Homo sapiens: one gene and its partner. The protein of the gene in region 1 interacts with the protein of each later gene in a pairwise test. Each region holds a gene or a part of one and is shown in the gene's direction. Other genes may lie near its edges.

Region 1 (3,820 bases):
ATTATGTCTGTAAATATAAACATATTTATATATGTGAAAAAAACAAAATAATTATAAAAAGTAAAGGTAAACAAATACTAAAAACGCTTCACTTCCAAATTATCTTACTATTGTCTATAGTCTTGACATTAAAGAATCTCAAGACTGTACATATAACAGGTATAAAGTACCTGTTATATCTGGATGATGGAAACACTATGTAGCAGTGTTCTGTACTGGGCATCTCTGCTCAACTTCATATTTAATGACTCTCCTCCCACTTGCTCGTTCTACAAATGAGGAAATCAAAAGCTCAGGAGAGAAGTGAGGGCTATAGATACAGATTTAGGAGCCTTATGGGGTATGGGCGGAAATAGAAACCACAGGAATGAGTAAGATGGTCTAGTGAGATTGAAGAGTACCAAATCAGTGGGGATTGGGTAGAGTGCTTGGAAGTATCAACATTTAATGAACAGGCAGAGGAACATCTTCCTGTAATTGAAGGGAGATGCACCTGTCTTCTCAACCCAAGTATGAGATGCAGAAGCACAGCTAGGGGAAACCAGGAAAAAGTGGTGTCAGAAAAGCCAGGGAAAGAGTTTCTGGAGGGCTGTACTAAGAGATGTCTGTATTACAGAGATGTTTAAAAAAGGTAGGAAGGACATGTTTGTTGGATTTGACAACCAGGTGGTGGCCTTAGAAAGGTTATGGGAAGGATTTATTTCAGAACCTCTCTAGCCTATATTCTGTATCTTGGTAGATGGCACAGGCATTCATTCAGATGTCCAAGGTGCAAATCTGGGAGTCATCCTAGAATACTCCTTTCCTATTCTCTACATGTAAGTGGTCACCAAGACCTGTGGGTACTCCCCCTAAATATTTCTCACTTTTTCCCTCTTTACCCCTCACTTCCACTGCCCTTATCCATTCACTCTCTTGTTTGAACCACTGCAATAATTTACTCTCCCTCCACTAATTCAGTCTTTCTTTCCAAGCAATTTTTCTGACATACATATCTGATCATACAGGTTCCATGTTGAAAATAATATTATTCAGCCGGGCGCAGTGGCTCACGCCTGTAATCCCAACACTTTTGGGGGCCAAGGTGGGTGGATCATGAGGTCAGGAGATTGAGACCATCCTGGCCAACATGGTGAAACCCCATCTCTACTAAAAATACAAAAATTATCTGGGTGTGGTGGTGCACGCCTGTAGTCCCAGCTACTCAGGAGGCTGAGGCAGGAGAATCGCTTGAACATGGGAGGTGGAGGTTGCAGTGAGCTGAGATTGCCCCACTGCACTCCAGCCTGGGTGACAGAGTGAGACCCCGTCTTAAAAAAAAAGAAAAGAAAGAAAATAATATTATTCAAAACTCCCCATTCCCATCGCTGGTGTTTGTAACCTGGGGACTGTCAATCTGGTAAGAGAGAATGACAATTGTTTGTGGACATGTGCACGTGATTGTGCACATTCACTTTGGGAAAGGCATATCTCCAATTAGTTATTAAAAGTGGTCCAAGACCCAAAAATGTGTAATAATTATACTCTATTTTCTCTTCAGATTGTATAAATCTTTCACCTTTTACCAAAAATGTGTGAAAATTAATGCCTTTTCTCTAAATACCTTCTCTGCACAAACTCAAGGCTGGCTTCTAACCACCCATCCAATGCCATTTGCTACAACCCTCTTACCCCTAGTTCTTTATGGACCAGCAATACAGATTTGTTTGTGGCATCCAGAATGTGACATCTAGAATGTGCCATATGCTGTCTTTTCCAGAGCACTTACAGAGCTCTTCCTCTTAGATTCTTTCCTGGACAGCCTCTTTCCCACAATTACTAGCATTCATTGTACTCTGTTATAATTGTTAGTTTACAGGTCTGCCTTTCCATCTGGACTGTAAACTCCTTGCAGGGCATGGCTGTGTCTTCTCATTCATGCCCAGCACCCAACACAGCATCTGTCAAGTGGAATACACCAGTGAAGGGATCAATCAGCTGTAGAACAAATATGTGGCCTTTTCACTCTTAGGTGCTCTTGATCAGACTACAGAATGGATAAAAGAATCTGTAAATGAAGAATTATTTTCTCTTTCTGAGAGTGCTTTAACTCCTGGGGCCGAAAATACCTCCAAGCCAAGCCTGAGCCCTACTTTGGTGCTAAATAATAGTTACTTGAAACTGTTACAGTGGGATTATCAGAAAAAAGAATTACCAGAGGTGAGTGGTTTTGTTCTTCACCCAAATTTCCCAGTATTTTTATTCTTAAGTTCTAACTTTGAATCATCTGGTCTGTGTTTCATGTGGTTTAATGACTTTACAAAAATCAGATAAAAATGGGAATTTGGAAATGACATTGCCTGTTTTGTATTTTCATGCTATTGAGCTACCCTTTCTATTTTTATATTTTAAATAAATATGTTAGACACTTATGACAGATGGAGCACGTCTTCAGGAACTAACAGAAAAGCTGAATCAATTGAAAATTATTGCCTGCCTGTCCCTAATTACCAACAACATGGTGGGTGCTATTACAGGAGGCCTGCCTGAGCTTGCAAGCAGGTTAACAAGGATTTCAGCTGTTCTACTTGAAGGCATGAACAAAGAGTAAGTTCCAAATTTTTGCATCTGCTCCCTCTTGTATTAAGGCTCTGCATGTGTCTCAGAGAACAAGAATGACCTTGGACATCTGGATGTGAGATTCAGGACTGTGCTTTAGAGAAGCTTATCTTACACCTTTTTCTAGAATTTCCTTTAATATCTCTGAAGGCTTAGATGTCCTCTCATAGGAAGGGAGAGGTGTTTTCCATGACAAGTGCCAGGGTGAGTGTAGTATTTCCACTTACAATGAATGTGTACAACAGCTTTTCTTTGACAGTGCTTTGGAAAAAAACAAATGAAACACAGAAATCTGCCAAGCTTGATGTTTAGAATTGCGCAATTTTTTTTTTTTTTTTTTTTTTTTGAGACAGAATCTCGCTCTGTCACCAGGCTGGAGTGCAGTGGCGCAATCTCAGCTCACTGCAACCTCCGCCTCCCGGGTTCAAGCAATTCTTCTGCCTCAGCCTCCCAAGTAGCTGGGACTACAGGCATGCGCCGCCACGCCCAGCTAATTTTTGTATTTTTAGTAGAGACCGGGTTTCACCATGTTGGCCAGGATGGTCTCGATCTCTTGACCTCATGACTCACCCATCTCGGCCTCCCTAGAATTGTGCTATTGAAGAGGGCTTTCCTCCAGTTGTTCTGACTTCATCATTTTTCTGCAGTGAAATGTTTACTGACTTCACAAATCCACCTTGCTACGAAGTCTTCAGAAGTGCTGACAATTCTGCCCTTCAGAGATGTGACACAGTCCAGTGAAGATTTTGGTTTTTGCTAAATTTATCTCCAGTATTACACCTTCATGAATGCTAGAATCCCATTTAGATTTTGCATTTACATCATCCAATAGGAATTCCTATCTAAGTCAGAAATTCTTAGTCTTGGTGAATGGCCAGATGGTTCTATGGGTCTCTTATGGATCAGCTTCTGCTGGTTCCCCTTTCAGGTGTCTTCAGAGGCATGTCCTCTTTATTCCTGTAATTGAAGGGAAATGCACCTGTCTTCTCATCCTCCCACCTATTATTCAGAGAGCATATAAATTACTTGATGAAATCCTAGACTATTAAGAGCCAAAAGGAGCCCATGTAGTTACAGAATCCAACTTCTCATTTTGAACTGAAGCTTACAGATAGAATAGAATTTGCCTTGGGCTGCAAACAGAAAAGGGCAGACCAAGGACTGAGCCCTGATCTGACCTTTCTCCTGATTCTGATGCTCATTAATATTCCAGGACCAAGAC
Region 2 (3,820 bases), on another chromosome or scaffold:
TTTTTTTTTTTCTTTGAGATGGAGTTTCGCTCCCGTTGCCCAGGCTGGAGCACAATGGTGCGATCTTGGCTTACCGCAACCTCCACCTCCCAGGTTCAAGAGATTCTCCTGCCTCAGCCTCCCGAGTAGCTGGGATTACAGTCATGCGCCACCATACCAGGCTAATTTTGTATTTTTAATAGAGTTCTCCATGTTGGCCAGGCTGGTCTCGAACTCCCGACCTCAGGTGATCCTCCTGCCTCAGCCTCCCCAAGTGTTGGGATTACAGGCGTGAGCCACCACGCCCGGCTGAGAAGTCTCTTTTTAAAGCACAAAGTCCATTGTTGAATGTATACCCTGTTATGGGAAAAAGGACTGTGATGTCCCCTGCGTTGCCTCAGACAAGGAAGGCGGGAGACCTGTCACCCAGATTTCTACCATTACAGCATCATGACCAAAAGCACCGAAAAGTCTTCAGGAATTTGTGTCTTCCTTTGGAAAAAAACACTGGAATAGGGAGTGTTCGTGATGTGTAGCCATTAGGAAAGAAACATTCAAGTTGTCTGCCTTTGTGGTCTTTCCCCAGGAGCCAGAGAAGCAGCAGTTATATGACATACCAGCCAGCCCCAAGAAGGCAGGACTCCATCCCCCAGACAGCCAAGCAAGTGTAAGTATGAAGAGGTGCTAAGGTGCGGTGTTATGAACACACAAAATCCTCTCAGAAATGTTATTAGCTTGGGGCCAGGCACGGTGGCTGAAGCCTGTAATCCCAGCACTTTGAGAGGCCGAGGTGAGTGCATCACCTGAGGTTGGGAGTTCAAGACCAGCCTGGCCAACATGGCAAAACCCCATCTCTACTAAAAATACAAATATTGGCTGGGTGTGGTAGTGGGCGCCTGTAATCCCAGCACTTTGGGAGGCTGAGGTGGGCAGATCACTTGAGGTCAGGAGTTCAAGACCAGTCTGCCCAACATGGTGTAACCCTGTCTCTAATAAAATACAAAAATTAAAAAAAAAAAAAAAGAAAGAAAGAAATGTTATTAGCTTGGTCAAAAATTAGAATGCAAATTCCTCATAACAGAGACCTTGTTGCATTTGAGGTAAAACCTCTCATTGCACTTGTGTTCAGGAATAGGACTAATTACGTGGTTGGGATAAGTCGTTTAACTTCTCTGTTTTTATGGGCTGGGAGTATTAAGTGAGATAATCCTGCAAAGGACCCGGGACAGTGCCTGGCATGGTGTGAAATTATGTAATGGCTTCTTCTTACGACAGACCTCAGGGGCGTGCTGTGATACAGTACACTTTTATCTGTGTTGGGCAAAGGACTTTATCTGAAATCTGTGTAATCTATGTTTATAATTGGATTCTACCACATGTGTCCCACAGACACACTTACACCCAAGGTCATTAGGGAACATCTTACAAGAAGGCTGGCATTTCGCCGTGTCAGGGGGATGCATAGGGGTTTGGTGGATGGAAAAGAAAGGGTTGCCAAGGGCATTTAGAGCAGAGAAACCAGTTTGGGTAAAATTAAATACACTGGCATGAGTCAGTGTTCTGAGTTCAGGGGAAAGTAAACAGCTTGGGTGGCTGGACCTGTAAGCAGATGGTGGCAGACCAGGTGGGGTCAGCGTGGTGGAAGTCGAAAGAAATGAGGCTCAAAAGAATCCTGAAGGACCTTGAGTGGTAACAGAAATGGGGAGCCACTGAAGGAGCGGCGGAGTGACGATGAGATTTAAACAACGCACTCGCGCCCTCTTTGGAAAGCTACTAACCCGGCAACTATGTGTGGTTCTCCCACAGGGGCAGGGTGTTCCCCTGATATCAGTGACTACCTTAAGAAGAGGCGGTTACAGCACATTACCAAATCCTCAGAAATCGGAATGGATTTATGACACTCCAGTGTCTCCAGGAAAGGCCAGCGTCAGAAACACGCCTCTCACCAGCTTTGCGGAAGAATCAAGGCCCCACGCTCTCCCCAGTTCCAGCTCCACTTTCTACAATCCTCCAAGTGGCAGATCCAGGTCCCTCACTCCACAACTGAATAACAATGTGCCCATGCAGAAAAAACTCAGCCTTCCAGAAATTCCTTCTTATGGCTTTCTTGTACCCAGAGGCACATTTCCTTTGGATGAAGATGTCAGCTACAAGGTTCCTTCAAGCTTTCTGATTCCCCGAGTGGAACAGCAGAACACCAAGCCCAATATTTATGACATCCCTAAAGCAACGTCGAGTGTTTCTCAGGCTGGGAAGGAGCTGGAGAAAGCCAAGGAGGTGTCAGAGAATTCCGCGGGCCATAATTCCTCATGGTTCTCCAGACGGACAACTTCCCCATCTCCTGAACCGGACAGATTATCAGGTTCCAGTTCTGACAGCAGAGCTAGCATCGTTTCCTCGTGCTCCACCACATCCACCGACGACTCCTCCAGCTCTTCCTCGGAGGAGTCAGCAAAGGAGCTCTCCTTGGACCTGGATGTGGCCAAGGAGACAGTGATGGCTCTGCAGCACAAGGTGGTCAGCTCTGTCGCTGGCCTGATGCTCTTTGTCAGCAGGAAGTGGAGATTCCGAGACTATCTGGAGGCCAACATTGATGCAATCCACAGGTCCACTGATCACATAGAAGAATCTGTAAGAGAATTTCTGGATTTTGCCCGAGGAGTCCATGGGACTGCCTGTAACCTCACTGACAGTAACCTTCAGAACAGAATTCGGGACCAGATGCAGACCATCTCCAACTCCTACCGCATCCTGCTTGAAACAAAGGAAAGCTTGGATAATCGCAATTGGCCTCTGGAAGTTCTTGTGACTGACAGTGTCCAGAACAGCCCAGATGACCTTGAGAGGTTTGTCATGGTGGCACGGATGCTTCCAGAAGACATCAAGAGGTTTGCCTCCATTGTCATTGCCAATGGAAGGCTCCTTTTTAAGCGGAACTGTGAAAAGGAAGAGACTGTGCAGTTGACCCCAAATGCAGAATTTAAGTGTGAAAAATACATCCAGCCTCCCCAAAGAGAAACTGAATCACACCAAAAGAGTACCCCTTCCACTAAGCAAAGGGAAGATGAACACTCTTCTGAACTATTAAAGAAAAATAGGGCAAATATCTGTGGACAGGTGAGTTCAGAGTTCCAAGTGATCGAAAAAGGGGCTTCAATTGTTACCTGGAGTAGTGGCTACTAAGATGCTGAGACTCTTTCCATAGTGTATAGGCTTTGGGGAGACACTGGTTCCATTTTCTAGAAAATAAAATTTATGAAAGTAAAATTCTTGATGAAATCTTATTAACAAGTCAGATAAAGATAGGTCAGCATAGGCAGATAGGTCAGTTGATTTGGATTTCTTCCGAAAACTTTTGGCGTTCAAGTTTACCATATTAGAATTAAAAGGGATTTTTAAATTTCTTAAAAATTTATTATTTGAGTAGATTTTTAAAACCTCACCACCAAGTCTCCTTGCATTTTTGAAAGTTATAAATTTAGTCATTCTCAGTGTGTTTCTTAGCAACGAAAGAGGAAGTAGAAACATTCTTTCAAATTGCCCATGGTCTGATCAGCCCCCAGACTTCAGCTACTCTTAGAAATACTTTTCTGAGGCTGGGCCTGGTGGCTTATGCCTGTAATTCCAACGCTTTGGGAGGCCAACGCAGGAGGATCCCTTGAGGCAGGAGTTTGAGACCAGGCTGGGCAACATAGTGAGACCCCAGCTGTACAAAATTTATTTTTAAATATCCAGGTGTAGTGGCTCATGCACTTGGGAGTCTGAGTGGGGGTATCCCTTGAGACCAGGAGTTTGGGGTTGCAGAGAGCTATGATGGTGCCACTGCACTCCAGCCTTGGTG

What was found.
Region 2: the proteins of TCP11L2 (region 1) and CASS4 interact in a two-hybrid assay, tested with the Homo sapiens proteins (one large-scale study listed by IntAct).

Annotation. Positions count from the first base shown.
Region 1 is NC_000012.12:106,333,628-106,337,447, forward strand, and holds part of TCP11L2 (T-complex protein 11-like protein 2), read left to right. Parts: intron 1-2,011; coding exon 2,012-2,199; intron 2,200-2,404; coding exon 2,405-2,586; intron 2,587-3,820. UniProt on the Homo sapiens protein: Promotes the migration of muscle-derived satellite cells (MDSCs) during differentiation throught interaction with FMNL2 and therefore may participate in microfilament assembly.
Region 2 is NC_000020.11:56,450,034-56,453,853, forward strand, and holds part of CASS4 (cas scaffolding protein family member 4), read left to right. Parts: intron 1-565; coding exon 566-646; intron 647-1,785; coding exon 1,786-3,096; intron 3,097-3,820. UniProt on the Homo sapiens protein: Docking protein that plays a role in tyrosine kinase-based signaling related to cell adhesion and cell spreading. Regulates PTK2/FAK1 activity, focal adhesion integrity, and cell spreading.